Homo sapiens: one gene and its partner. The protein of the gene in region 1 interacts with the protein of each later gene in a pairwise test. Each region holds a gene or a part of one and is shown on either strand. Other genes may lie near its edges.

Region 1 (3,500 bases):
GAGATTGTGCCACTGTACTCCAGCCTAGGCAACAGAGCAAGATTGTCTGAAGAAAAAAAAAAAAAGAGAAAGTTAGAATTGGAAGAACTTTTTCTCCCTCCCTTCTTCCCTTTCTTCCTCTTTCCTTCTTTCTTTTTGGTGTTGGCTAATTCTAAACTTATTAGAACTTGGCGAATCTACCAGGGTTTTCTACTGTTTCCATGGTATGGATATAATATGTCTAGTTAACTAAGTGAAAAAGCACAAAGTGCATCTGAAGAAAGACAGGTTTAATTCTATTTTATTCAATATTATTTTCTGTGACCTTTCTTTATGTATTTGGAAATAACTGTTAAATTGATATACATGACATATCATTCATGAAAGTAAAAAACTGGCAGCTCCAGGACAAGGTAAGCCCAAACATGCATTTTGGTTTGGGTTAGCGCTATTTTTCATTTAAATGAATTTGATGCTTTTAAAAGGGCCTTGTTCTCTACCATTTGCATTCCTCATTATTTTACTTTCTCAGCTTTTACCCAGTAACCTTGCCTACCTAGCTCATGAAAGGATTTGAATTTGTGATACCTGATACTTCTACCCATGAGATTAAGGAACTTTGATAATTAGTCATGTGCTAGAAAAATATTATTAGATTTAAAAAGAAGTTTCAGTGACTAATATATTTTCAGTCTAGACAAAATAATATTTTGCAGCATACTATTTTTAACAGATTTTTGCATAGGAACTTTTATTCTACTTTCAAATTATTCAGTAGATATGTTAATAGATAGTAACATATAATGAAATAGATGTATTGATATGTTCCCATCCCTTTTTCAGATTCTTACTAAGGTGTAGGTTGGAGTCCCTTTTGAGGAGTAGAAGCACAGAAGAATGAAGTAGGGATAAACATTTTATAACCACATGGGTAAAGTAAATAGTAGAGATTGGGCTAAAGTCAGATTATGAGATATCTAGCATAATTACAACAGGAGATGTACGTGGTAAATAGAGCTGCACTGACTGTCCCAGCCGTCACTAAATTTCTTCTTAGTGACTCCAAAATTTACCTGTGCTTACAAATTTAATATAAGGCCTTCAAAAAAACAGCCCATCTCTTTTCCTTTCCCTTCCTTTATGGTGTTTGCTTACAAGTTGATACTGTTCTCAAGTAGCATACAAAATGTCAAAAAATTAGTTTATCTTACTCTGAAATGTTAATCAGTTTCTTTATTACAGCGTTATGGAACATAGACATAATGATATGCATTATGAATGTATGACTCCTTGTCAAGTTACTTCAGACTCAGATAAAGAGAAGACAATAGCATTTCTTCTAAAAGAATTGGATATTCTCAGAACAAGCAATAAAAAGGTATAATATGGAAAGTCTGATAATTGTATAGTATGGGTTTAGCTGTTGATCTTCTAAATTTCCTTTGTTGCCCATCATAATTCAGTTTTATTTTGCACTTTAATCATTTAACAGTAGCTTTATGTTTTTGCCATACCTTGCCATCAGGGTATGGTTGAGTTAAGGGGTTGAAAATGAAAGCATTTTTTTGATTTCATACCTTGCTGGTCCACATTAGCACTTCCTTTTTCATAAGCCCCTGGTTCCTTGTATACATATCTTTAAAAAAAAAGATTCAAGTTTTAGTAAAACTCTGCTTCAGTATTATAGAGAATGGGAGATAGAATGCACTGGTTTCATGTTACTATCTTAATTTTTTTTTCTTTATTAGTATCCATGCCCTATATTTGACCTCAATAATACATGTAATTAAACATTTCAGTAGCAAGGCTTGGCAATATTGTCATTTACCTTGTGTTAATCTTATACTGCTGCATTTTGTCCAGTCCAATTTGTCACGTTATGTTTTATCTTCTGTTCTGACTCTTATTCTAGTTATAGTCATGTGATCATTAAATAATTTTATTAAATAATGTGCATTTTCTGTGTCTTCTTTTTTTTTTAACCTCTACATACTGCTCTGATTTTAATATTCTAGTTGTGTAACCTAATCAAACTGAAGCATGATGTTAGGAATGTTGATCATGTTTGGAGGAAAACAACTAAAATGACAAAAACCTAGGGAGGAATTAAAAAAACATGTGGAGGGATTCTGTATGAGATGTTTTCTGTACTTTCATTTAGCAGTTATTTATTACATGCCACTTATGAGTCAGGTGTCAGTGTCAATTTAAATGGAATATGATGGGGTAGTATTCTCAAAGGGAGATTTGTATCAGATATTAAGATTATTGTCTTAATTTTGTTTCAGAATATTGGATTTACTAAGATAAACTGTAAAGCAGTGCTATCTGTTATTTTATTAGGCAAATCCCTTCCAAATATTTTGCATTAAGAAAAAAGGATGAATGAGACTGCTTTTGCAGTAGTCATTATTATTATTATTTTTTTTGAGATGGAGTTTCACTCTTGTTGCCCAGGCTGGAGTTCAATGGCGCGATCTCAGCCCACTGCAATCTCCGCCTCCTGGGTTCAAGCAATTCTCCTGCCTCAGCCTCTCGAGTAGCTGGGATTACAGGTGCCCGCCACCACACCTAGCTAATTTTTTGTATTTTTAGTAGAGACGGGGTTTCATCATGTTGGCCAGGCTGGTCTCAAACTCCTGACCTCAGGTGATCTGCCCACCTCGGCCTCCCAAAGGGCTGGGATTACAGGCGTGAGCAACCACATCTGAACTGCAGTAGTTATTTTTAAGAATAATGTTGGTCCTCTGAATTTAATTTGCCTGTTCATGCACATATACACATAAATTAAGTGTATATTGGGATGTTTTTACAATTTCTGTATAACTACAGGTAATTATTACTTTATAAATAACTTAAATTTTAAATTTTTTTCTGGAGTTATCTATCTAGGAAGTTAAATATAATATAAGAATTAAGAAAAAACCAAAAACTTTGAAATTAATTATATTTTTGCAAGACATTTGTCAAATAAGAATCCATGATTTTTTTCAATGTGCTTTAGCTTCAGCAGAAATTGGCTAAAGAAGATAAAGAACAGAGAAAACTAAAGTTTAAGCTGGAACTCCAAGAGAAAGAAACAGAAGCTAAAATTGCTGAAAAGACAGCAGGTATAGTAGAGGAGTATTAACACATGGCTTGAAGAATCACACACAAGGTTATTATATGATGTATCTTGGTGAATACTAGCATACTGGCTTATTTGCCAAAGGAGGGGAAGCTCTCCTTTTTTTTTTTTTTTTTTTGGCTGCTTAGAAAATAGGTGGCTTTAACATCCTGGTACTGGTATTAGTGAGAGCTTTACCTGTATTCATACTGATTTGGGCATTAAATGCATTGTTAACACCATGTCAATCCAATCACAAAAAGGTTGTTTGTTTTGTTGGAAGGGGCTGAACAAACAAGGGGAAATAATGATTACCAGTGCCTCTACCTTTCAACCAGCAGTTCAAATACCACTTATTGTTTTAGCTCGTTGAGAGGAAATACTTCTCCTTTGTATGAAGATAGTCACATATTCA
Region 2 (4,213 bases), on another chromosome or scaffold:
GAATGGGGTGAGTGGGGTGAGTCCACAGAACAGTGGGGTGCAGCCCCAGGGGTCTCGTAGCACCTGCCCCCATGTCAGGAAGTCCCACAGCCTAGAGGCTCCAGCCTCAGATGCATACATATGTAGGCCCTGCCCTTTCCTCCTGAGCGGCGGGCCACAGAGTCCTGAACAACAGGAAGCCCCTGAGGAGGGCTCCGCCCTGAGGGAGGGCAGGGGAGCCCCCGCCAGCCCCACCCACAGCAGCGGGCCCTGCCACCCCCCACCCTGACACCTCACCCCTTGGATTCCAGAGAGGAAAGTGGGCTTGTGTGTAGTTTACATGCTCATATCTTAAAATCACTGTTGTCAATAGAACAATTCATAATCATGATGATAAAATAAGATTTATAACCAGCTTCAGTCTGGAGATACACACAGAGCAGATCTTCACTCCCAGACAGGGAGCCCGCAGCTGCCCCCGACCCCACAGGTGCAGGACACACACAGACAGTTCAACCATGTCTTAAACACACAGGTGTTTATTTAATTGTTCATTTGATTGAATTTTTAAGTTCACTTTACTACGTGGATGAGATGGGTGCATATTACAGTAGGCTTTCGCTATGAGCGCTGCCACCATGAGGAATATCCCAGCCCTCAGTTCTGCTTCCCTTTCTGAGTCCCACAAAAGCCAGATGTGGACAGCCTTGGGTTCCCATCCCAGCTGGCTGCTCCTTCTGGGGCTGTCTTGGTGGGGAGAGGGAGATGGGGCAGTGGGTCCCTGCTGACCCCTGAGCCCTGCAGGGGTCAGGATCCTCCCGTGGTCCCTGGGTGTGACTCTGGAAGACACTGGCAGTGCCCGGCCAAGGCCTCCCGCAGGATGGAAGTTGAGGGCCCTGGCTCTGGGTCCTAAGAGAACTCAGCCGCCCCCTTCACACTTTACAGCAAGGGGCCAGGCAGCAGCTTTGGGATGGGGCTTCCGTGGAGAAGTGGGGGATGCTGCAGTGGTACAAAGACAGCCTCCCCCACCGCCATCCTCCAGCTGACCGTCCTCCAAGGCCAGCACTGGGCGTCCAAGGGAAAGAAGGAACTCAGCCCAGAGGGTGTGGGCAGGAGAGGCCTGGAGTCAGGCCTCCACCCACAGCCCCCTCTGGGTGCCAAGTGGGAAGGGTGTTGGGGCTGGCTTGGGAACCTTACCCGCTGCCCTTCCAACACCTGGATCTGTGGGCAGCGGTCCCACAAAATCCCCCTTGGGGCTCCCTGAGGAGGACTTGTGGCTGCCGCTTCCACCAGGGCAGAGGGCACAGGAGGGGCCAGCACTCCAAAGGGCTCTAGGGTGGGTCTTTCAAGGACATCTGCAAAGCCCTGGTGGGGAGGGGCCTGGGCCAGAGGCTCTTTGGAACTCTTGCACTTCTGAGTGGGGGACTGTCCATGCTGCCCACAACCTCTAGACCATGCAGCCTGCTCATGGGTCCCTGGCAGAGAATGCCCACTCCCCAGCAGACTCAGGGCAGGCCCCCAACTGCAGGCTTCCAGGAAGGCCCAGGGTGTCCACCTCACGCCAGGTGGTCTCAGAGGACCCCTGTGCAACCACATTAAGGAAAGCTGCAGCCCCCACCCACCCGCCTGCCAGTTCAACAAGCACCGGCTGCACACGCAGGCTCCCAGGCACCATCACCCCCCTCCCCCGTCGCCCCTCCCTCATGGGGAGCCCCTTCCCCCTGGAAAGACAGCAGGTACTGTAGCCTCGCCTGCTGGCCAGGGGCGCCGGCTCAGAGGACCTGCCCTGACCTGCACGTGCTGACCAGACAGCCCAGCGTAAGGACCCGTGATCCCACGCCACCGCCCTGGGTTTACCACGGTCACCGCCACCTCTCTCACAGGGCCCCCGGGGGACCCAGCCGCGCCCGGCCTGGTGTCTGCACCGAGGGACCGCGTCTCACGCCCGGCGGCTCCTGCAGGGGAAGCCGTGGTCAGCGACTCACCACGAGGACAGGGCAGGGCGGCTGAGTGCGGAAGAGAAGCATGAAGCTGGGGGCGGGGGTGGGGGAGGAGGAACAAAAGTTGCATCTAGACAGAGGTGAACGAAACAAAACCAAAACCCGAACGTGTTCTGTCGCAGGATGGGCGCCGCCCGTCCCGGGCCCTTAGCCCGACATCTCTTCTCGCTGCTCCTTGTTCCTGCGCACCTCGGCCGCGTGCAGCTCCTGCAGGACAGGGGGCGGGAGGGCCTGAGGGCGGGGGTGGCTTGGGGCGACTCCGGGAACCCCCAGGCGCGCAGGCCGTGGCGCCCTGGCACCCGCCCGGCCTCATCCGGGCTGGCCTTCGGCAGGACCCTGACTGAGTTGAGGGGGCGGGAGCACCGGGGAGGCGCAGAGCAAGGCCAGGGACCAAGGACGGGTTTCCTGGGAGCTGGCTGGGCCCCGCTTCTAGCTCGTACCGGAGCCGAGCTTCCTTCAGGGCACTTTCAATATAATGAATTTAGCCATCTATTACTGCGGCTAGTTACTGTCCCGCCAGGACCAGACTCTGGACCTGCCTCGTGCGCTGCTGGGGACGCCCAGTAAACACGGGAGGAGCCCCCGACCCCCACCCCAGCTCAGCGCCTCGGAGTCCCCGGCCCCGCTCTGCGCCCCTCCGAGCTCCGCCCTAGCCCCGCCCCCGCCCAGTGCCCCGCCCCCTGCCTGCTGCTAGCCCTGCCCCCGCCCCGGCCCCTGCCCGCTCCGAGCTCCGCCCCGGCCCCGCCCCGGCCCCTGCCCGCTCCGAGCTCCGCCCTGGCCCCGCCCCCGCCCAGTGCCCCGCCCCCTGACTGCTGCTAGCCCTGCCCCCGCCCCGGCCCCTGCCCGCTCCGAGCTTCGCCCCGGCCCCGCCCCGGCCCCTGCCCGCTCCGAGCTCCGCCCCGGCCCCGCCCCCGCACCTTCTCGCGCAGCCGCTCGCGCAGTGCGGCCAGGTGTGCCTCGCGGATCTCCTTGCTGAGCTCCATCTTGTAGTTGAGCTTCTCCTCCGCCTGGCGGCTGAAGTTGTTATTCTCCTCCAGCGCCTTGTGCAGCACCTCGCGCTCGTGCTCGCGCCGCTCCGCCAGCTGCTTCAGCACCTGCGCCTCCTGCGTCTGTGCGGGGCCGGCGGGCGCGCGTGAGCGGCAACCCCGGGCCCTGCCCGGCCGGACTCCTCCCTGCTCTCCGCCTCCCGCCCAGCGCCCGCTCGCCTCACCTGGCGCCTCCACCTGCCCAGGCCTCGGTGGGCGCCGGGACCCCCGGGCGCTGCCCTGGGAACCCTCGCCTGCCATCCGGCCTGTGGTCGGGGCAGGGCCAGGGGGTCGCGATCCGCCGCCCCCGCCCCCGTCCCTGCCTCGCGCGCGGGTCCCGCGGTCCTGGCTGCGCCCAGGGCCCCCGCCATACCCTGCCGCCACTGCACACCCTGCCCTGCGCGTCTGCCCCTCCAAGGACCAGCAGCAAGAAACCCTAAACTTGTGGGCGGTCTCTGAGCTTTGTCTCTTCCTCGGACATCCGCCCACTGAGCAGAGTAGCTGCTTGTTACACACCGGGTTCCCAGCTCCCAATTAGGTGCCCAGGAGCGGAGGGTCCCCAGGGATGCTGGGGGAGGGGCCGGCTGGTGACCCCTGGGAGGAGAGCGGGGCAGCAGGACCCGCACCCACATGCCAGTCCCTACTAGTCAGCCCTGTGAACCCTGGTCTCTGGCCTCACCGGGAAGGGAACGGAGCCGCTTCCCCTGCCCAATGCGTTGGCCTCCAGGGTGGCACCCCCAAAAGGACATTTTTATCTCTGTTTCAGTCTCAGAGGGGCTGGTGGGAGGGGAGGCTGCAGGGAGGGGACCTGGAGCCCACACCCACCTCTCCCAGGGCCCCTCCGCCCTCCAGCAAGCCTCAGGGTCTTCACACATGAGGCCCTTCCTCCAGCTTCCCTGTCTGGGAGAGGGATGCCCCACCCGACGTCCCCAGGGCCCATCTGGGGACCACCCCCTAGCATCCTGCTGGCCCTGACAAGGGTGCCTCCCACCCTCACCAGAGGCTCCTGCTCCTTCCAGGTGGCCGCCTCGGAACCCTTCCTCCTCTCCATCCCTTTCTTTTTTTGTTCTTGTTTGTTTTTTGAAATGGAGTCTCACCCTGTCGCCCGGGCTGAGGAGTGCAGTGGCGCAGTCTCGGCTCACTGCATCCTCCACTTCTTGGGTTCAAGCAATTCCCCTGCCTCAGACTCCCTAGTAGGTGGGATTACAG

Evidence for each region. The genes of interacting proteins can lie anywhere in the genome.
Region 2: the proteins of MIPOL1 (region 1) and STMN3 interact in binary tests that used the Homo sapiens proteins (3 or more experiments, as listed by UniProt).

The regions. Positions count from the first base shown.
Region 1 is NC_000014.9:37,267,437-37,270,936, forward strand, and holds part of MIPOL1 (mirror-image polydactyly gene 1 protein), read left to right. Parts: intron 1-1,221; coding exon 1,222-1,357; intron 1,358-2,983; coding exon 2,984-3,089; intron 3,090-3,500.
Region 2 is NC_000020.11:63,639,212-63,643,424, forward strand, and holds the end of STMN3 (stathmin-3), read right to left. Parts: intron 3,089-4,213; coding exon 2,897-3,088; intron 2,187-2,896; coding exon 2,127-2,186; 3' UTR 501-2,126; downstream 1-500. UniProt on the Homo sapiens protein: Exhibits microtubule-destabilizing activity, which is antagonized by STAT3.